4 separate regions of the Homo sapiens genome follow, and all the other regions are linked to region 1. Evidence: fine-mapped expression QTL. A gene starts in region 1. Each other region holds a variant in brackets. All regions are shown on one strand. Distances are from middle to middle.

What was found. PIP is the estimated chance that this variant, and not a neighbour inherited with it, causes the effect. A credible set is the group of variants that fine-mapping cannot tell apart.
Region 2: its variant is the best candidate, but not a certain one, in a credible set for the expression of IRAK1BP1 in whole blood (TOPMed, PIP 0.59).
Region 3: its variant is the best candidate, but not a certain one, in a credible set for the expression of IRAK1BP1 in sun-exposed skin (GTEx, PIP 0.65).
Region 4: its variant is the best candidate, but not a certain one, in a credible set for the expression of IRAK1BP1 in naive CD8 T cells (Schmiedel 2018, PIP 0.58).

What each region holds. Positions count from the first base shown.
Region 1 is chr6:78,864,417-78,870,089 of GRCh38, reverse strand. It overlaps IRAK1BP1 (interleukin 1 receptor associated kinase 1 binding protein 1), which reads right to left and starts at 2,539. Exons shown (of 4, transcript NM_001010844.4): 1 at 2,199-2,539. The coding sequence starts at 2,513. LOC107986613 (a long non-coding RNA gene) reads left to right here and starts at 2,600. Exons shown (of 2, transcript XR_001744210.2): 1 at 2,600-2,702. RefSeq lists enhancers at 1,752-2,352, 2,185-2,504, 2,535-2,644.
Region 2 is chr6:78,786,056-78,791,728 of GRCh38, reverse strand. No RefSeq gene overlaps it. Among named protein-coding and RNA genes, the nearest start is that of IRAK1BP1, 79 kb to the left of the region's middle. The variant C/T (reference allele first, on the strand shown) is at 3,389.
Region 3 is chr6:79,124,500-79,130,172 of GRCh38, reverse strand. No RefSeq gene overlaps it. Among named protein-coding and RNA genes, the nearest start is that of PHIP, 49 kb to the right of the region's middle. The variant A/C (reference allele first, on the strand shown) is at 2,754.
Region 4 is chr6:79,017,867-79,023,539 of GRCh38, reverse strand. PHIP (PHIP subunit of CUL4-Ring ligase complex) reads left to right here. Exons shown (of 40, transcript NM_017934.7): 10 at 4,381-4,451. The region is part of intron 1 of LOC124901346 (a long non-coding RNA gene); the gene reads right to left. Among named protein-coding and RNA genes, the nearest start is that of PHIP, 58 kb to the left of the region's middle. The variant A/T (reference allele first, on the strand shown) is at 3,370.

The DNA of each region.
Region 1 (5,673 bases):
TTGCCCAGGCTGGAGTGCAATGGCACGAACTCAGCTGACTGCAACCTCCGCCTCCTGGGTTCAAGCAATTCTCCTGCCTCAGCCTCACAAGTAACTGGGATTACAGGCATGCACCACCATGCTTGGCTAATTTTGGTATTTTTAGTAGAGACGAGATTTCACCATGTTGGTCAGGCTGGTCTTGAACTCCTCACCTCAGGTGATCTGCCCTCCTCGGCCTCCCAAAGTGATGGGATTACAGGCGTGAGCCACCACGCCCGGCTCAGGCTCCATCTTTTAAGCAAAGGAGTTTGGATTATGAGGAGCCCTTTAAGCAGGGAAGTGATGTTTATAAATCTTACAGCTCAGAATTCTAAAGTTTAAAATGAATACAGACTTTGTGAAGACCCATAATTCATTCTGAAAATATAAATGATATTTTGTATTATCTCCTGAACAAATTATCTACCTGACTGCTTTCATCCATTAGCAGAGATAATTGGGAGGTTACTGTCTTTCTTATGTCTTGCCTTGAACACTGAATCTTGATTACTCTAAGTTGGACTTAGTTAATTTATTTACTTACTACTTATTTGAGACAGAGTCTCTGTCACCCAAGCTGGAGTGCAGTGGCACCATCTCGGCTCACTGAAACCTTCGCCTCCCGGATTCAAGAGATTTTCCTGCCTCAGTCACCCTAGTAGCTGGGATTACAGGACTGTGCCACCATGCCCACCTAATTTTTGTATTTTTACTAGAGATTGGGTTTTGCCATGTTGGCCAGGCTGGTCTCGAACTCCTGGCCTCAAGTGATCCACCTGCCTTGGCCTCCCAAAGTGTTGGCATTACAGGCATGAGCCACCATGCCCAGCTTATGTTGTTTTATATATTAGAGACCTGTGAGCTCTTTTTATTTTATGTAAATAACTTAAAAACTTGTTAACATTATTCAAACGACTACAGCACTAGTAGCAGTTTTTTAAAACTATTTTTCTACATATTAAACCCACTTTACTCACATTATTTATAATTATCTGTATTTTTCTAAATTGTAAAATCATTTGAAGAAATCTTGTCCAAATGACTTTGTAATAACTTGTATGTTTGTATTATAAATGCAATTCAAATATCTTTTCTTGTTAAAAATAAGGACTTGCTTTTTCGGGGTATGGAATTTCTTGCAATAGACTGGAAGTAACAATGCCTGCACTTTTACCAACTCAATGTCATCCTGGATAAGTTACATCTCTGGCCTTTGGGGTCCTACTCTATAAAATGAGAAAACTGAAATCGTTGATCCCTATGATTTCTAATTTTCTTTCATTCTAATTATCGGCAGAATTGGAAGCAACTTACATTCTGGTTTCAGGAATACATGAGTTCAAATATTGCTCTACCTAAAGTTCAGAGCATTGTTTAACCTCTTTAAATTTGGAAAACAGGGATATTAAAACATGCCTAACAGTGCTATTGTGTGGATTAAATGATGGCTTCATTTTTTTTCTTGCCTTAGGAGTAGGCTTAAGGTAAGATTTGTTTAGTGATTTGTCTCATGGACATCTCCGTTAAGTAAGTAGAAGTATTTCGTATATGTGGTATCCACAATACTGGCTTGATTTTTTCTTTTAAGTTAAACCTAAGAAGGCCGAAGAAATTTTGGGGGAATCACTATAAAATGAAAATCATTATAAAATGAAAATGGACGCAACTTCTTCCCCACTTCCCAACGTTACTGTTTGCGGAACATACTCAAGAACCATTCCATGCAAAGTTTTACATGATCGGAAGGAAGCAGGTCGTGCTCTTCACTTGCCAATTCCATGGTGCGGAATAAAAACAAAACAAAACAAAATATTTAGTGTCCAGCACTCCACGTGGGCAAGTATTTACAACTAACATTTCAAGTTTTAACATTTCATCACTTTAAATTTAAAAACAAAATCACTGAAGCAAATATCCCCAGATAAAAACCTACCCAATTTGCATTCTTTTATTTTTAATTTGCCTGAGGCCAATAATTACCTTCGTCTAGGAGAAGAATGGGTCAAATATTCACTCTGCCAGGTCCTGGCGTCCCGGAGTACCTTTGCAACAAACGCGTCCTAAACGCTCCAGACCCTCCACATCTCCCTTCCCGCTAGGGGGGCCTGTGGGGCCCGACCATCTGCCAACCCTTTTGTGTCTTCCGGCTCTTATTTCCTCCCCCGCGGAGATCTCACCTGCACGCCCTGCTGCTGGAGGCTCTGCGTGATGTAATCTAGACGGCGACAAACGCTCTTTTTGGCCTCGGCTGCCGCCTCCTTGGTGCTGCTCACTCGCACCACCACCTGCGCCCGGTCAGGGCCCGCAGACACTTCTGAGGTGCCGCTTACTTGCACCTCGCGGGTAGCAGTTTGGGCTTGTGTTGAGGAGAGGGGGTGGCGTAAGCCCGGTAGCGTCTCTCTCCCTGAGGCCAGGTTGTTCTCCCGGCTCCGGTCAGCCCAGGGAACCAGTTCCACGAACACTCGGGTCGGAGGGGTCTTTTGCAGAGACATAGCGATGGCAGCTGGGTTTCCATAGTAACTACCGGCCGACGGCGGCCGAAGGGGCCAATGCGCACCAGGGCTTGCCTGTGCACGGCGCAAAGTATGCCGGGATGGGTGTGGAGGCCGCGGAACTTCTGGCGGGCGCAAGCTATATGCCTTGTTGATCTTGCCGCATCTTTTTTACTAGATGTCGGCTGAGTGAGTAGCTACAGTTTTTAACATGTTTAACTTACGGCCTTCAAAAATTGTTAGCGGACTTTCTCTGTTGCCTCCTCAGTGAGCTCTGCCCTTTCTCGCAACTCCTTGTCGTCCCACCGCGCCTCTGCACCTCAGAGGAAGGAGAAGAGTAGCGAGGCCGAGCGGGTTTTTAGATTTCTCTGTGATTACCCCCAGCCTTGTCTTTTCTGACTTTACCGTCCCCGCTTGGGGTACTGCTTTTTGAGGCTCCCTCGGCCACATTTTTGTGGTTCGTGAGAGGTTTCAGTTGAGGTGAACTTTTTGCCCCTGTGATCTTGGACAGTTTATGATTCTTCATATCTCAGTATCATCTTCTCTAAAGCAGGGTTGATAATATTTTTTATATTAGTAATATATAATATATTCTAATATATATAATATATTCTAATATATAATATATTCTAATATATATAATATATTAATATTATCAAAGCAATGTTGATAATATTTTTCACATTTGCTATGTGCTTATAAGGCGCCCATTGTATGTAGAGTGCGTTGCATATGGAAAGCAGAGTGAACATAATGGATGTTTGTAATGATAGCTATGGCTTTGGCATCATTTTTGTGTCTCCCCATTTTTTTCTAAAATCCCTGGAATGGTTCGGGCCTTGAATTCCGACAGAAGAGATTTAGGTGGTAGCAAAGCACGTCCAACATGGAGTTTGCTGGGCCTGCACAACTTGGAGCTTCTCTGTACCCTTTTCTTCAGAGAACTTTTAGAACACAACCCTCAACTTCCCGTCTTCTGGATTCTCTTCCTAGCACTAAGCAATGATCTTTGTAAAAATAGCCCCACTGACTTATACGTCTTTACTATCTGAATTTTATCAAGAGAATCGAGGGGGGAAAAAAGAATTTTGAATAACTAGTTCTAGAAGGACAAGAACTGTTCTTTTAAAAGGACCCTGAAAAGCTGACAGTCCTCTTGTAGTTTCTTCACCATCGTTTTTTCTGTTCTTTTCGATTAGTATAATTCAACTAAATCAATGGTACCCCCCTCCTTTAATTAGGCTCATCACTAGATTAACATAATTTTGTGTATATCCATCTTGTTTATTGTTAGCTGAAAACAATTTTAATTTAAAAACTAACGTTAAGAACTTTCCGTCATAGTCTTTTATTATTTAAGACACCCAAAATAATGTTTCTTAAACTTGGTGAAAAATTCTTTTTCCCTTACGATAAATGCGGAAGAATATAGCCTCCAAAATAAATTATTGAATGAGTGAATGTCATAAACAAAAAGCAACAGGAGTTAAAGTGTAAGTATTTAGTATACGATAAAAGATTTCATATCAGTGGAAAATGATTACATGGTACAGGGATAATTGTAAGCTATATATATAATATACTATAGCTATATAGCTATAGTATATTTTATATATATATATATTTTTTTTTTTTTGAGGCGGAGTCTCGCTCTGTCATTCTGGCTGGAGTGCAGTGGTGCGATCTGGGCTCACTGCAAGCTCCGCCTCCCGGGTTCACGCCATTCTCCTGCCTCAGCTCCCGAGTAGCTGGGACTACATGTGCCCGCCACCACGCCCGGCTAATTTTTTTGTATTTTTAGTAGAGATGGGGTTTCACCGTGTTAGCCAGGATGGTCTCGATCTCCTGACCTCGTGATCCGTCCACCTCGGCCTCCCGAAGTGCTGGGATTACAGGCATGAGCCACGGTGCCTGGCCCATTGTAAGCTATATTTTTAAAGAATTTGTATCTTATATCATACATTGAAAATAATTCAGATGAGACCAAAAAGAAAAATAATTGGAAGAACCTATATGTAAATATAAATATTCTGGGGGATGGGAAGGCTGGCCTTAATCATAATTTCATGTGCAGCAACCATGAAGGAAAAGTTTGAAAAATTGGACTATACTAAAAAAAATCAGTTATATAAAGCAAAATAAAAACAAAGGTGGGGGGGCAAATAAATGGGGAAAAATGTTTGTTAATGTTTATTATGTATAAAGGGCTAAGAGTCTTAATGCTTAGAGAACTGTTGCTAGAAGAAACAAACGTGTCAAAAGAAAAATAATGAACACTGAGGCAAACTGTATTAGATTGCTATTGCCATAACAAAAGTCTTTCGGCTTCAAAGACTTTGGAGCTTAAACAGCACAAATTTATTTTCTCACAGTTCTGGGGCCTAGAAGTCCAAGATTAAGGTGTCAGCAGTTTTGGTTTCCCCCAAGGCCTTTCTGGTTGGCTTGCAGACGGCTACTTTCTTGCAGCATCCTCACATAGCCTTGCCTCTGTGCACATTACCCCGATGTCTCTTCATAGAGCCTCACCTTTGTGACTTCCATTTAACCTTAATTACCTTCTTAAAAGCCCTGTTCCAAACACAGTCACATTGAAGAGCACTCCAACATACGAATTTTGGGGAACACAAGTCCACAATACAGACCAAGAAAGCAGAAATGTTAGTAGTCTATAGGATGAAAAAAAAAATAGTTTATCCTCACCAGTAGTTTAAGAAATGCAAATTTAACTACAGTGTAATGTCTGTTTTTGAACTATCATTTTGGCAAATAACAAAGCCCGTGAGAATGGAGAAGGAATAGATAATACTGGATTTTGAAAGAAGAATGAATTAATTCTTTGTGACAGAACTATAAATTAATAGTATATGAAAGAGAAGGATAAGCCTAAACTGACTTATGAAGTTTTCAGCTGGAATGATTGGGAGAATGAATGAAGAGCATAGAGCTATTTGTTCAGCTCATAGTAGCCCAGTTCTCTCTCAGAGTCAAGGCTGAGCCCCTAGCAACTGTTTTGAATAAGGTGACTCTACCAAGTTGATTGTACTAAGAATAGGTACCTAATTCCAGTTGAACCCGTTGGAATTTTTCACATGAGAATCTATATTTACACCAAATTTTAAAAATTTAGTCTCTTAGGTGACAGGGCTGTGACATACACTCA
Region 2 (5,673 bases), 78 kb after region 1:
TTTCTTGGATGCATGGTTTGCAAAAATTTTCTCCCATTTTGTAGGCTGTCTGTTTACTCTGTGGATAGTTTCTTTTGATGTTCAGAAGCTCTTTAGTTTCATTAAATCCCATGTGTCAATTTTTGTTTTTGTTGCAATTGTTTTGGCATCTTTGACATGAAATCTTTCTCTGTGCCTATATCCTGAATGTTATTGCCTAGGTTATCTTCCAGAGTTTTTATACTTTTGGGTTTTACATTTAAGTCTTTAATTCATCTTGAGTTAATTTTCATATAGGTGTTAGGAAGGGGACCAGTTTCAACCTCTGCCTATGGCTAGCCAGTTTTCCCAACACCATTTATTGAGTAGGGAATCCTTTCCCCATTGCTTGTTTTTGTAAGATTTGTCAAAGATCAGATAATAGTTGGTGTATGGTCTTATTTCTGGGTTCTCTATTCTGTTCCATTTGTCTATGTGTCTGTTTTTGTACCAGTATCGTGCTGCTTTTGTGACTGTAGCCCGGTACAGTAGTTTGAAGTCAGATAGTGTGATGCCTCCAGCTTTGTCCTTTTTGTTGAGGAATGCCTTGGCTATTTGGGCTCTTTTTTGGTTTCATATGAATTTTAAGATCGTTTTCTCTGGTTCTGTGAAGAATGTCGTTGGTAGTTTAATAGGAATAGCATTCAATTTATAAATTGCTTGGGGCGGTATGGCTATTTTAACAATATTGATTCTTCCTATCCATGAGCATGGAATATTTTTCCAATTGTTTATGCCATGTTTGATTTTTTTGAGTAGTGGTTTATAGTTCTCCTCATAGAGATCTTTCACCTCCATAGCTAGTTGTATTCCTAGGTATTTTCTTCTTTTTGTGGCAATTGTGAATGGGAGTTCATTCCTGATTTGGCTCTTGGCTTGACTGTTGTTTGTGTGTAGAAATGCTAGTGATTTTTGTACACTGATTTTGATATCCTGAGACTTTGCTGAAATTGTTTATCAGCAAGAAGCTTTTGGGCTGAAACTATGGGATTTTCTAGTTAATAGGATTATGTTATCTGCAAATAGGAATAGTTTGACTTTCTCTCTTCCTATTCAGATGCCCTTTTTCTCTCTCTCTCTTGCCTGGTTGTGCTGGCTAGGACTTCCAATTCTATATTGAATAGGAGTGGTGAGAGGAGTCATCCTTGTCTTGTGCTTGTTTTCAAGGGGAATGATTCCAGCTTTCCCCAGCTAATTAATTTTTTTTTTCTCAGAGATTAGGTCTAATTATGTTTCCCAGGCTGGTCTCCAACTCCTGGCCTCAAGTGATCCTCCTAACTTGGCCTTCCAAAGTGCTGGGATTACAGGTGTGAGCCACTGTGCCCTGCTCAAATCCATGAAGTTTTGAGAGTGGAGATGTACGTGACTTTCTTATCAGAAAGCTAAGACCTGTTCCATGTCTGAGTCTCACTGCTCATAATTTCTTTGAGTCATTTGCTGACATGATCCTGCTCACACCCAGAGAAAGCTGGGTGGCACTGTGGAAGGAATCATGGAGTGAGAGCCCAGAAACATAAGGTGTAGACTGTCTGGGCCCTGTGAGCAACTGGTGATAGCCCAGATGCTGGACTTCCCTGCTTTATTTTATCTGTAAAACAATCTTAATAGTATCTACTTGTGTTAACTTCCAATGGCTGATGTAACAAATTACTACACACTTTAAAACACGAATTTATTATCTTATGGTTTTGTAGGTCAGAAATCCAACACAAGTTGCTTGGGGCTAAAATCAAGGTGCCCACCAGGCTGTGTTACTTTCTGGTTGTACTAGGAGAAAATCTGTTTCCTTGTCTTTTCCAGCTTCTAGAGCCTGCTCACATTCACTGATTTGGGGTCTCATTCCTCCATCTTCAAAGCTAGCAATGTAGCTTTGATGATACTTTTGTTGTTATATGTTTTTCTCTGACACTCCCTCTTCTGCTTCCCCCTTTTTTGAATGATCCTTGTGATTACACTGGACCCATTGGATAATCCAAGATAATCTCTCTATTTTAAGGTCAGCTGATTAACAACTTCAATTTCCTCTGCAACCTTAGTTTCCCTTTACCATGTAACCTAACATATTCATAGGTTCTGAGATTAGAATGTGAACATTTTGGGGAGCCATTGTTATGCCTTGAAAGTGGCTATGCCCACTTTAGTTGGTAAAGGAATCAAATATAAAGGTACATCATCATTATGAATTACCATAATGATAGAATATACTATTGGCTGGGTAAAGTATTTTCATGTGCTTCAAGATAACTTAAAAACTCATTGCAATCAACATTTGATATGCCCCGGTTTTTGTTTTAACGTTAGCCATTTGGGGGATATTCAGTAGTATGTCATTATGATTTTAATTTGCACTTTCCTGAAGACTAATGGGAATAAACACCTTTAAATGTGTTTCTTGTCCATTTATGTATCTCATATTGTGAAAGGTATATCTAAACCTTTTATTCATTTGAAAATTGCATTTTGTCTGCATTGTGTTGTATGAGTTTGTGGTGAAGTTGCTATTGTGTCACCTTAACTAAACTGGAACTACTTTTTTCTGGGATGTCCCTCTCTGGTTGTTTTGAGCCTGAAAATTTGTGCAGGATTTAGAATGCAGACATAAAGCAGCAACTATCTTCTTTTTATTCATGGAAAGCTGGAGCAAGGCAGGTGGCACTGTTGCAGCTCACACACACTGTTGCTAATTTGCTGGTCACCCTGTGAGCATGAGGTGGCATCTGAGTTCATAGCTCCTCCAGCCAGACTTCCTCTTTACATTGTGCTGAATCCTGGGCCAGGTACATACTTATCTCCTGTAGTCAGTTGAATTTGTGTCTCCCCAAAAATATATGTTGGGATACTAGCCTTCAGTACCCCGGAATGTAACCTTATTTAGAGATAGAGTCTTTGTAGAGACAAAGGTAATCAAGTTAAAATGAGTCATTAGAGTGGGCCCTAATCCAAATACAGTGGTGTCCTTTTGAGAAGGGACAATGTGAACACAGAGACACACACATTCACAGAGAATGCCATGTGAAGATGAAGGAAGAGATTAGGGTGATGTAGCAGATACCAAGGAATGCCAAAGATTGCCAGCAAACCACCAGAAGCTAAACAAGAAGAATGGAAGAGGTTCTCCCTCACAGCTCTCAGGAGGAACCAACCCTGCTAATGTCTTCATCTGAGATTTCTAGCCTCTAGAACCAAGACAATAAATTTCTATTTTAAGCTATCCAGTTTTTATCGTGTTGCTCTGGCAACTCTAGCAAACTAATACATCTCCCTAATCATTGAAGTTGGAAGCTTGATTGAAGTTGGTGAGAGATTGGTACAGTCTGTCCTTGGAGATTTCAGCCCATCCTTATAGGTGAGTTTCTTCTTGCTTCTCTCA[C/T]ATTGCATTTAATTTCTCTTCCTGACTGCTTTATTAGCAGATCTCAGACTCTAGTATCAGATGTACAGACAACAGTTTCACAGAGACAGTCTCCCATAAATGTATGAGATCAAATCCATATAATGAAATATGTTTATATACATATATATATATATATATATATATATATATATATATATATATATATATACATACACATATGTATGGGACTCTTAGTGGTTCTGTTTCATTAATCAAGCCCTGATTGATACAGAACTCTTTGTATATCTTTAATACTAGTCAGATACATGTTTTGGAAAGATTTACCTCCCAATCTGTGGATCACCTTTTCATTTTCATAATGGTGTTTTTGAATAGTTATAGTTTTTAATTTTGATGAAGTAAAATTTATTAAAGTTTATATATATATATACACACACACACATATTTTGGCCTAGTGTAAACAAATCTTTACTCCACACTCATGAAGATATTCACCCGCCTCCCCCTTTTTTTTTTTAGCATGGTAAGAGGTAGTGGTCAAGATTCTTCTTTTTTTCTTATGGAGATTCAGTTGTTCCAGACCATTTATTAACATTATCTTTCTTTCTTAAATTGCCTTAGTATTTTTGTTGAAAACCAATTGACCATGTATAGGTGGGCTTATGGCTGGACCTCATCTTGTTCCATTGATTTACTTCTCTATTCTTGGCCAAAGATCACATTGTAAAAACCGCTATAGCTTTATAGTAAATCTTGAAATCAGGGAGTGTAAATCCTACAACTTTGTTGTTTTTCAAAATTGTTTTGTCTATTCTAAATTCTTTGAATTTGTATATAAATTGTAAACTGAGTTCAACAGTTAAAATGGATTTTTTTGGGATTTTGGTTAGGATTGAATTGGATATACAGATTAATTTGGGGGAATTATTGATAGTTTAATAATGTTGAATCTTCAAATACATGACCAGAGCATATATATTTAAATTGTCTTCATTTATTTAGATCTTCTTTAAATGTTCTTGAGAAATGGTTTTTAGTTTTCAGTGTTTTCATTACATTTATTATTGTTTTTAGGCTACTGTAAATAGCATTTTAAAATATCATTTTCTTAGGAACGCTTTTACAATGTTGGTGGGAGTGTAAATTGGTTCAACCATTGTGGAAGACAGTGTGGCAATTCCTCAAGGACTCAGGAGCAAAAATACCATTTGATCCAGAAACCCCATTACTGGGTATATACCCAAAGGATTATAAACCATTCTACTATAAAGACACATGCACATGTATGTTTATTGCAGCATTGTTTACAATAGCAAAGACTTGGAACCAACCCAAATACCTATCAATGTTAGACTGGATAAAGAAAATGTGTCATATATACATAATGGAGTACTATGCAGCCATAAAAAAGAATGAGTTCGTGTCCTTTGCAGGGACATGGATGAAGCTGGAAACCATCATCCTCTGCAAATTAACACAGGAACAGAAAACCAAAGACCACATGCTCTCACTCATCAATGGGAGTTGAACAATGAGAACACATGGACACAGGGAGGGGAATATCACACACCAGGGCCTGTCAGGGGGCTGGGGGGAAAGGGGAGGGAGAGCATTAGGACAAACACCTAATGCACGCAGGGCTTGAAACCTAGATGATGGGTTAATAGGTGCAGCAAATCACCATGGAACATGTATACCTATGTAACAAACGTGCATGCTCAGCATGTGTATCCCAGAACTTAAAGTAAAAAAAATATATATATATATGTATATAATAAAATATCATTTTCTAATTATTTGTTGCTAGTATGTAGAAATACAATCTATCTGTTCTTGGACTTTTTTTGATTGGTAAGCTATTAATTGTTGCCTCAATTTCAGAGCCTGTTATTGGTCTATTCAGAGATTCAACTTCTTCCTGGTTTAGTCTTTGGAGAGTGTATGTGTCGAGGAATTTATCCAGTTGTTCTAGATTTTCTAGTTTATTTGTGTAGAGGTGTTTACAGTATTCTCTGATGGTAGTTTGTATTTCTGTGAGATCAGTGGTGATATCCCCTTTGTCATTTTTTATTGCATCTATTTGATTCTTCTCTCTTTTCTTCTTTAGTAGTCTTGCTAGCGGTCTATCAATTTTGTTGATCTTTTCAAAATACCAGCTCCTGGATTCATTGATTTTTTGAAGAGTTTTTTGTGTCTCTATTTCCTTCAGTTCTGCTCTGATCTTAGTTATTTCTTGCCTTCTGCTAGCTTTTGAATGTGTTTGCTCTTGCTTTTCTAGTTCTTTTAATTGTGATGTTAGGGTG
Region 3 (5,673 bases), 260 kb before region 1:
AAGGAACAGTTAGCAGAGAAAACACACAACCCACAGAGTGGGAGAAAATCTTCACAATCTATACATCCAACAAAGGACTAATATATCCAGAATCTATAACAAGTTCAAACAAATTAGCAAGAAAAAAAGCAAACAATCCCATTAAAAAGTGGACTAAGGACATGAATAGACATTTCTTGAAAGAAGATATATTAATGGCCAAAAAACATATGAAAAAATGCTCAGCATCACTAATGATCAGGGAAATGCAAGTCAAAACCACAATGCGATACCACCTTATTCCTGCAAGAATGGCCATAATAAAAAAATAAAGAAATAATAGATGTTGATGTGGATGCAGTCCACAGGGAACACTTCTACACTGCTGGTGGGAATGTAAACTAGTACAACCACTATGGAAAACAGTGTGAAGATTCCTTAAAGAGCTAAAAGTAGAACTACCATTTGATCCAGCAATCCCATTACTGGGTATCCGCCCAGAGGAAAAGAAGTCATTATATGAAAAAGATACTTGCACACACATGTTTATAGCAGCATAATTTGCAATCACAAAAATGTGGAACCAACCCAAATGCCCATCAGTCAATAAGTGGATAAAGAAACTGTGAGATAGATAGATATATATATATATATATATATATATATATATATATATATATATATATATATATATAAAATAAAATACTACTCAGCCATAAAAAGGAGTGAATTAATGACCTGGATGAGATTGGAAACTATTATGGTAAGTAAAGTACCTCAGGAATAGAAAACCAAATATCGTATCTTCTTACTCATAAGTGGGAGCTAAGCTATCAGGATGCAAAGGCATAAGAATGACACAATGGACTTTGGGGACTCGGGGGAAAGCATGGGAAGGGACTGAGGGATAAAAGACTACAAATTGGGTGACATGTATACTGCTCAGGTGACGGGTGCACCAAAATCTCACAAATCACCACTAAAGAACTTACTCATGTAACCAAACACTGCCTGTTGCCCAATAACCCATGGAAATCTTTAAAAAAATAAAATAAAAATAAAAAGAATGTTGAATATTGACCCCTAATTGCTTCTGGCTTGTAGGTTTTCTGCTAAGAGGTCTGCTATTAGTCTGATGAGCTTCCCTTTGTAGGTGTCCTGACCTTTCTCTCTAGCTGCCTTTAACATTTTTTCTTTCCTTTGGACCTTGGAGAATTTCATGATTATGTGTCTTAGGGATGATCTTCTTGTGAAGTATCTTGCTGGGGTTCTCTGCATTTCCTGAATTTGAATGTTGGCCTTGCTAGCTAGGTTAGGGAGGTTCTCATGCATGGTATCCTGAAGTACATTTTCCAAGTTGGTTTCATTCTCCCCATCTCTTTCAAGAACACCAGTGAGTCACAAATTTGATATCCTCACATAATCCCATATTTCTTGGAAATTTTGTTTATTCATTTTCCTTCTTTTTCTCTATTCTTGTCTGTCTTATTTCAGAAAGCCAGTCTTCACGCTCTGAAATTCTTTCTTTTGCTTGGCGTATTCTCCCATTAATGCTTACAATTGCATTCCTAAATAATTGTAGAATGTTTTTCAGCTTTGTTAGGTTGATTACTTTCTTTTCTATACTGGTTATTTATCTGTCAGCTCTTGTATCATTTTATTGTGATCCTTAGCTTCTTTGGATTGGGATTCAACATACTCCTGCATCTCAATGACCTTCATTCTTATTCATATTCCAAATTCTATTTCTGTCATTTCAGCTATCTCAGTTCAGTTCAGAACCCTTGCTGGAGAGGTAGTGAGTGCGGTTGTTTGGAGAAAGAAGACACTTTGGCTTTTTGAGTTGTCAGAGTTCTTGCACTGGTTCTTTCTCGTCTTTGTGGGCTAGTGTTTCTTCAGTCGTTAAAGTTGCTGTCCTTTGGGTGGATTTTTTTTTCTTTTATTCTGTTTGATGAGCTTGAGGGTTTGATTGTGGTATAAGATGGATTCAGTCCACTGGCTTCATTTCTGGAAAATTTTAGTGGGTACCAAGTCTCAGCTCCCAGCTCCTGGACTGCAGGCTGTAACTCTTAGGGACTTGTTTCGGGTCCTGACTTTGTTCTCTGGCTCCTCAAGGCTAGGAACCCACTGTGCTGGGGGAGTTGAGATGCTGCCACTCTACTGGTCCCTAAACTCTGATGGGTAGTGCCAACAAAAATGTGGTGGCAGTGGGCTCTGTCCTTGTTTGCACATGCCAGCAGCAGCAGCAGTGGCAGTGTCAACATGGAGGGGTGCACACTCATTGGCTACAGTAGGATGGTAGAGAGTGCTGGGATGCCTTCCTCCATGTAGGTGTTTACAGCAGCAGCAGAAGTAAGACTGCTTAGAGGGGTGGGGAGGCCCCTGCTGGCAACTGTGCTTATGGGCATGCTGGTGGTGGTGTTAGCATGGGGGTGGGGTGCTCTTCTTTTTTCAACATAAAATGATTTTCAGTTATTTGTAAAAGGGCTTCTTACATATAACTGGGAAGGAAGAGGTGAGGTTTGTGTTTTTAAATTACAGATGCTCCTTTAAAAAAATTGGAACTGTATTTTCATCAGTGAAACCCTCTGCTTTAAAATCTCAGTGTCATTGCCAAAGACTAAATACATTGACCTTGGACTCAATTTTGAGCTACACATTCATTTCTCTAGAATGTTGGTAAAAGTTGCAGAAGTAGAGTCATCTGTATATTTCTCTTCAAGTCCTTAAACTTTTAGTAAACCATTATTTATGGATCTAACACACTTGTAAAC[A/C]ATGCCAGCAACATATTATTTGTCCTGCATGCTTATAAAATTCTTTTTTTTTTTTTTGGTCATGGTTAGATGATTCCCGGTAACTACATTTTAATTCTAATTCTGAGAAGTAAGTAACAAAAAAACTATAATCCTTAAAAAAATCAGTTGAATTAACAAAGGCACTTGCTTCACACAAGATTAAATTAGGCCATATGAAAAGTTACTTTGCATAATCTCTTCATGACTTTGCATCTAGTTATTTCCAAGCTAATATATCTAGCCTCTAATTCAAAAAGAATTGTAGACATGACTTTATTATCTTCCTTATGGAAAATTTCTTGATAAAAATTAGGTTGCTTCACTATTGATTTGAATCTAATTTTAGCAGTGGTTAGAAGTTCCAACACAGCTTTCTACAAGGATTTGAGATTTGACATCCATCTTAGTAGGTGTTGATTTACTTTCTGTTTTAAGCAGTTTCCACATTAGGGATTTGGGGCTCATTCTACCCACAAACCCTAATAATTGCCTAGGTATAATGCTACTCTGCATATATCACATGACTGGTGGAAAAATAAATCATTCATTTAACAAATATTGATCAAAGTTCTGCTGTGTGCCAACTATTATGGCAAGTGTGGAAGAATCAGAATTAACTAAGAAGAAAAAACAGACATGGAAACATTTCAAGGAAGAACTAGCTAGAAGGGAAGGATACAGAAGGATGGTGTTGGCACAAATCTCTGCTTTAGGTAAGTCAGGAAGTTTTCTAAAGGAGACATTTAAGTAGGAATTTTCCTTTTGGAGTTGGGTTGGAGAGTAGGTAAGAAGAAATCAGGAGGGTTGAGCATTCCAAGGAAAGAAAACAGTAAAAGACTAGGGACATGAAATAATTTATTGCACATTGCTTGGCTTGGATGTAATTAGTAGAGTAGTTAGTTAGGCAACAAGTATTTATCAAATAACTACTAAGTGCCAAGCATCTTGCTTGGTTTTGGAGATTTCAGATGTAAAGAAGACAGACCCACAAAAATATTACAGGTAAGCCCAGAAGACAGATATTAAAGAAATGATTTCAAGTGTGTTACGTGCTTCAAAGAAGTGTTACTAAGTCTAGAAGAATAATAAGTTTGAAGTACCGAATGTTGCTCCTCTCTCTCAAGTTTGCCTACTTTTTCCTAACTTCATAAAGGCTTTCTTTTCCTGTCTCCATTCACAAACCCAATTCAAGTAGCTAGTCTCATTGCCTAAGAATACACTTTGACATTATGTAGAAAAGAAATAATCTCTGAGGCTTTTCCTAGTTTTGTCATTATTGGTATAATGATTGAAAGCATGGAAGTGGATAATTGACCTAAAGAGAACAAAGGGTGTAAGTGGAAAAAAAAAAAAAAAAAAAAAGCAGGGCCCAGCATAGAGCTATGAGGAGTGCACAAAGAAACTTAAGAAAGAGCTAAACAAGAAGTCAGAGTAAAAACAGACTGAGAGAGAGGGTAGGCAAGTGAGTTGGAGACACAGGCAAGGCCCAGATCATGAAGGACCATGTAAATAATGAAAGAGTTTTGTTCGAAATGGCCCCACACCCTCAGCTGTTCCTTAGTTACCCTTCCTCTACTCCCTGAACCAGGTTACTCCTTTTGTCGCTCCTCTATGGACATTTCAGAAAGTCCCCTATTTCCTCTGTTCAACACCCATTGCCTTGGGACAACCCTCCTCTTGCCCACACACATATGACTGATATGACTTAGCCAACTTTACTATGAGAAATGTAGTGGTACTGAAAGGATTTTTTCTCCCACTGTTTGTTTTCTCTCTGTTAAACATTTTTGTGAGTTTTATTATAGTATAATTTACATAAATAAAATTCATCAAGCTTAAGTGCATACTTCACTGAATTTGGACAATTGGGCATAGAGTGTAACCACAATCACATTCATGGCATGGAACTTCCCATCACCATGAAAAGTTACTGTATACTCCCTTTGCAGTTAATTTTTTCTCTCCACCCTCTGGAAAACAGTGATTGGGTTTCTGACACTATAGTGTGGCTTTTTCTAGAATTTCATATAGTGGAATAATAGAATATGTAGTCTTTTGTATGTGACTTCTTTCACAAACCATAATAATTTATAGAATCATCAATGCGAGTATAAGTAGTTTTTCCCCTTTATTGTTGAGTAGTCATTCATAATATGGATATGCCACAAACTGTTCATTCATTCTCAAGTTGATGGTATAAGGGAGCTTCAAAAAGTTCATAGAAAATGGAATTAAAAGACAAAAATAAAAAATGTAAACATTATAAACATAAGTTCAATCAAGTAAACTTAGACACTTTTATAAGTGATGATACCAGTTATTTAGTTCATCCCTAAAGAACTGAGGGTCCTGGAAATTTAACCATGCCAATGCAGTCTTCTTTACATTATTAGCTGAAGAAAAATGGGTGCCATGTAAATATTCTTTAAGATTTGGAAACAAAAAGAAATCAGAAGGAGCCAAATCAGGACTGTAAGTTGGATGTCTAATGATTTCCCATCAAAACTCTTGCAAAATTGCCTTTATTTGATGAGAGGAATGAGCAGGAACATAGTCATGGTGGAAAAGGTTAAATTTTCTGGGGTGTTTTTCTGCTAAAATGTTGGCTAAATTTCCCAAAACACTCTCATAATAAGCAGATGTTGGCCTTCCAGAAACTCACCAAGCAAAATGCTTTGAGTATCCCAAAAACTGTCACCATCACCTTTGTCCTTGACTGGCCCACTTTTGCTTCAACTGGACCACTTCCACCACTTGGTAGCCATTGCTTTGATTGTGCTTTGTCTTCAGGGTAGTACTGGTAAAGTCATGTTTCATCTCCTGTTACAATTCTTTGAAAAAATGCTTCAGGATCTTGATCCATTATTTAAAATTTCCATTGAAAGACCTGCTCTTGTCT
Region 4 (5,673 bases), 150 kb before region 1:
TTAGTAATTTTTTTATTTTTGGACTTCAAAGTTTTTTCTAGGTATTTATAAGTAATATTCTTTCCTATTCCTATATTCTTTCCTATTCTTGTCCCTTAAAATTTTTAAATTCAGAGTTCAGGCATAAGAATGAGTACTCTGGCTGGGCACAGTGGCTCATTCTTATCTAATCCCAGGACTTTGGGAGGTCAAGGAAGGAGGATCACTTGAGTTCAGAACTTTGAGACCAGCCTAAGTAACAGAGCAAGATCTTGTCTCTACAGAAATTCAAACAAACAAACAACAACAACAACAAACGCCAGACATGGTGGTACACACTTATAGTCCCAGCTACTCAGGGGTCTGAGGTGAGAGGCTTGCTTGAGCCCAGGAGTTAAAGGCTGAAGTGAGCTGTGATCTCACCACTGTACTGTAGCCTCTGCGACAGGGCCAAGATCCTGTCTTATTAAAAACACAAAAACAAGAACAATCCATTGCTCTTTAGATATAAGCCTTGGAACACCTATTTTCTTTATGTGTTTACACATAGTTGAAAACTGCCAAAAATTTGGCAGGATATAGATTTATACTGTTTATGTCACATAGGATTTAATTAATAATCAAAGGCAAAAATTGTATTTAGCTATAATGCTTTTGTATATTCTGCTGGGGGAAATGACTTTAGAAATCCTGCATCTGCATTAGTTGAATGAATCAATTCAACTTTGGGAACTCAAATATCTTTATAAATTCACTTGTATGTGTGTATTACCAACTCACGAGCAAAGATGCTGTTTCTTAAATGGGTAGTCTAAGTGGCTAAGTGAACCATAAGCTAGCTCCAGAGGTCTCTGGGTAGGAGGAAGCTGTCCAAGTATATTTAGACTTAGGTGTAAAGAGACTAGGAATCCTAAAATATGCATATAATATGATGATTACAAATTTTTATTTGTGATTATTAGGCGCTTAGTCTGCCAAGCTAGTACTAAGCATTTCACATTTGTTATCTCAATCCCTATAACAACCCTTTGAGAAAGGTACAGTTATTATCTCTGGGGCAGATAAGGGAAAAACCTGGGGCACAGCAGGTTACATTGTTAGCAGGTGGTACTGGAGCCAGGATTTAAATACTACTAGAGGTATAATGTCAGAAACCCCTTTTAACCACTGTGCCAAACTAAGTGGCAGTTAGTCATTGAAGGATTGGCTAGAACTTGTTGAACCTAATAAAAATACTAATATTTATTGAGCATATTGGACATTGTACTAAGCACTTTACATGTATCACACTCATTTAATTCTCCCAGCAACTCTGAAATAGGTTCCGTTTTACCCCTGTTTTACAGATGAGGATACTGAGGTACAGAAATGTTAACTTGGCCTAAGGTCGCACTCTTGATAAGTGATAGACCTAGAAACTGAACTCGGCCCAAGGCCCTTTTTAAAAATGTTTCCTCAAATAATGCATCTAAAAACAAATTATGGGTAGCTACTTGTTTTTTCCCTTTAAAAATATAAAATCTTTTTATTTTTTAATTTTAGTTTTTGTGGGTATGTAGTAGGTGTATATATTTATGGGGTACATGAGATCTTTTGATACAGACATGCAATGCATAATAATCACATGGTGTTAAAGGGGGTCTCCATCCCTTTAAGCATTTATCCTTTGTATTACAAATTATCCAATTACACTCCTTTAGTTATTTAAAAATGTATAACTACTATTGATTATAGTTACCCTGTTGTGCTATCAAATACTAGGCCTTATTCATTCTTTCTATTAGTTTTGTACTCATTAACCATCCCCACCTCCCTCCTCTTCCTCCCACTACCTTTCCCAGCCTATAATAGCCATCCTCTACTATCTCATGAATTCAACTGTTTTGATTTTTAGATCCCCAAAATAAGTGAGAACATGTGATGTTTGTCTTTCTGTGCCTGCCTTATTTCACTTAGCATAATAACCTCCAGTTCCATCTGTGTTGTTAGAAATGACAGGATTTCATTCTTTTTTTATGGCTGAATAGTACTCCATTGTGTATAAGTACCACATTTTCTTTATCCGTTCATCTGTTGTTGGACACTGTGGTTCCTTCCAAATCTTCACTATTGTGGCGGGGCGTGTTGGCTCACGCCTGTGATCCCAGCACTTTGGGAGGCCAAGGCAGGCAGATGACCTGAGGTCAGGAGTTTGAGACCAGCCTGGCCAACATGGTAAAACTCCTGTCTCTACTAAAAATATAAGAATTAGCCGGGCATGGTGGTGCACACCTGTAATCCCAGCTACTTGGGAGGCTGAGGCATGAGAATCACTTGAACCTGGGAGGCAGAGGTTGCAGTGAGCTGAGATAGCGTCACTGCATTTCACCCTGGGTGACAGAGTGAGCCTCTGTCTCCAATAAAAAAGTAACTTGTAGTGCTTTATTAAATTTATTGGTTAATCAAAATAATTCACCAGTGTGTAAAGAGAAGTGTCTAAAAATAAGTAACATTAGCAATGACAAAGACTCAAATGATGGTCCATCAGGTTCCAAAGCATCTATGTGTGTGTGTTTTCCATTAAACTAACCTTACTGATTTGCTTTAAACCTAAACAAGTAAACAAACACATAATTACTTACATTGTCACACTAATTTAATACTTTAAAATATAATTTCATTGCTTTTGTCATTTGGCTGTAATTTAACTTATAAAATTTTAAGTTGAGGCAGGAGAATCACTTGAACCTGGGAGGCAGAGGTTGCAGTGAGCTGAGATTGTGCCATTGCACTCTAGCCTGGGCCACAGAACGAGACTCCGTCTCAAAAACCAAAAAACCCACAAATCTTCGCTATTGTGAACAGTGTTGTAGCGAACATGGGAGTGCAGATATCCCTTCAATATACTGATTTCCTTTCTAAAATAAAAACCTTTTAAAAATGGTAGTTTATAGGACTATTTGCATATTTTTGTAATGAGTTTCAGGTAAATGGTTGCTTGGAACTTATGTGAGCAGATGTACCAAAAATTAAAAAAAATCTAGAGCTATAATCCATAAGGTAGTAATGAAAGCAATGCATTTAGTTGCCTTCATAATTCAGATTAATTTACTTAAATTACAGTTAATTTTGCTCTGAATAAATGTTTAGGTTTTAAGAATGTTCTAATATCTGTCTCTCTAAATGAGATTTGTTCTGCTCATCTGTTACATTAGAGCCTGTGAATATTAATAGAATTTGCTGTAAATACTAATGTAAAACTATTTACAAACTTATTTTTTAAATTCTTAACATTTTGTTGCATTCTGTATCAGTAAAAAAGATAATTCTCTTTGCTCAGAATATATATTAGGTTGGTGCAAAAATAATTGCAGTTTTTGCCATTATTTTAATGGTAAAAAGCTTTTTTTT[A/T]AAAAAAAGGCAAAACCGCAATTATTTTTGCACCAACCTATAGCTCAGAAATATTTTATGTATATACTTTTTTCCAGTAAATGATCACAAAACTAAAACTGCTCTAAATTTGTTATATATTGTGAAAGTTATATAGGCTTAAGCTCTAATTATTTTTGCATTTCATCAAATAGTGTAGAAGAACTATGCCAAAATGTACAGTAAGTAGGGCTTCAAATATAATCAGTATATTGGAACATTACATACACATTGTTAAATGTATTAGAGCTGGTGTCATGATAAAAATCTTCATTTTCTCTAATTGGTTGACTGTAACATTAAACATTTAATATCAGTAGTATTGATATAAAATATGTAATCTGTAATACAGTTAGGCAATTAATGTAAATACAGCTGTGTGTAACCTGTTTTCTGTAGACTGCTATTTTGAATGAGCATTCATTGTAGTTGACGTAAGAGTCAAAGTATCTTCAGATTTTCACTAGGTTAAATGTAATATCCCTACTTTTTGGGGTCTTAAAAGACATGTTTTATCACATTAGTAGGTCAAAGAAGGGAAAAGCTTAATTAATGTAAAATACTGAAAAAGTTCAGTTATTGATGGTATACATAAGGCACAGACAGCACCTATTTTGCTAATGTATTCATGTTTGCGAATAGCTTAGTTCCTTATATGTTTGTACGTTGCTATTCTATATGAAAAACTGAGAACATGTTAAATTTGATTAGAAGTAAGTGTAACTAGTAACTGCATGTCTGGTGTGACAGTGAATTTGGAATTGTTCCATGTACGTATTGTTGTGTAATAAGGAGCTCCTACAAAATCTATATCTAGAATTTCTACAAGATCTTCTGATTTATGACACATAATGATTTCTAAGTTGTTTTTAGGAAGGGAGCCATCTGTTGCTTCTTAATTTTGTCCTTCTGGGATTATTTTTTGAAACAGATTATTTCTGCTGCTACTGGTTCCTTTAGGATATTTTTAATTCTTTATTTTTTGTATTACAGCCCAAGACCTGCAAAATTTACAGAGCGCCCTCGGCCTGGAGTTCAAATGATCTGTTCTTCTTTTAGTGCTGGTAAGTTTCCCTCATTCTAATTTTCGACTTAAAGTTGTTCATTTAGAAGCCTTATAGTGGAGTGTGTAATATTTAGGAAAATATTTACTGTTGTATTATCAATCATGTTCTTATACATATGCCAGAGCTAATAAGTAACTGAGAATTATTATAAACTAACTTAGAAATATTTCATTTATGCAAGAGTTTAGTTTATATAATCACATGACTGTTTTTCTTTAAGAAGACTATAATGTTCTAGTAGGAGAGAATAAATAGTTTCAAAATCGACCCTGTTAAAGAATGAATGTTTAAATAGTTGTTTCATTGTAAGAATGGTATTTTAAATCTGGTTTATGTTTTCATGGATTTTGAAGGTATTCTATAGTTAAGTAAAATAAATTTGATTCATATTTGTACATCTTTATCAGTTAATTCGCTACATATTGTTCTTATTTGCACTTTAAAAAGTGATTGTATAGCAGTGCTAAGATTCCAATTCAGATTTGTGTTTATGCAGCAGCATTTTGAATGGATGTTAGGGTATTTTTAAACAAGTTATAAAAAAAATCTGGTTATTTGTAGTAAATTGATAAGAAAATTAAATGAAACATGAGTAGATCCAAATAGTGTCTAATACCTGTTCCTCCTACCTTTATTTTCAGTTTTACTTTTTCCGCTCATTTTATAATTGTGGATAGGAGTATTACCTGAGATAAGGGATAGCAAACTAATGAAGTGAGTCTGTCTTTGCCATACTAATATCCAAACATGTTCATTTTCTAACTTCTAGATGTTCAGTGCCACTGCCATGGATTCAGTATTCCTTGTAGTAGTCATACAAATATAGGCATCATACATGCATCCAGAATACTCTGAATTTTTACTCCTTTTTCAAGGACAATTTGATTTTTTTAAGGGGTTAGTGGGTAGATCATTTAGCAAAAGTACTTAAATATTTTATTATATACAGGTATTGTTTTCAATACTGTGGAAGAGTGTTACTCTTGAGTACACTGCATATACAAATAACTGTAATGCAAGGTAGAATGAATATGCTACAAAACAAAGTCTTAGGGGAGTTCTGAAGAGAGCAGCCTCATTTAATTGCAAAGTTTGTAAAGAAAAGTTACTGAGGGAGTTGGGCCTTAAAAGTTTGATAAGATTTTGACACATGGGAAATGAGACAACAGAAAAATTTCAGCAGAATTGCGAGAGAAATATTTTCTAGTGAAGGTGACTG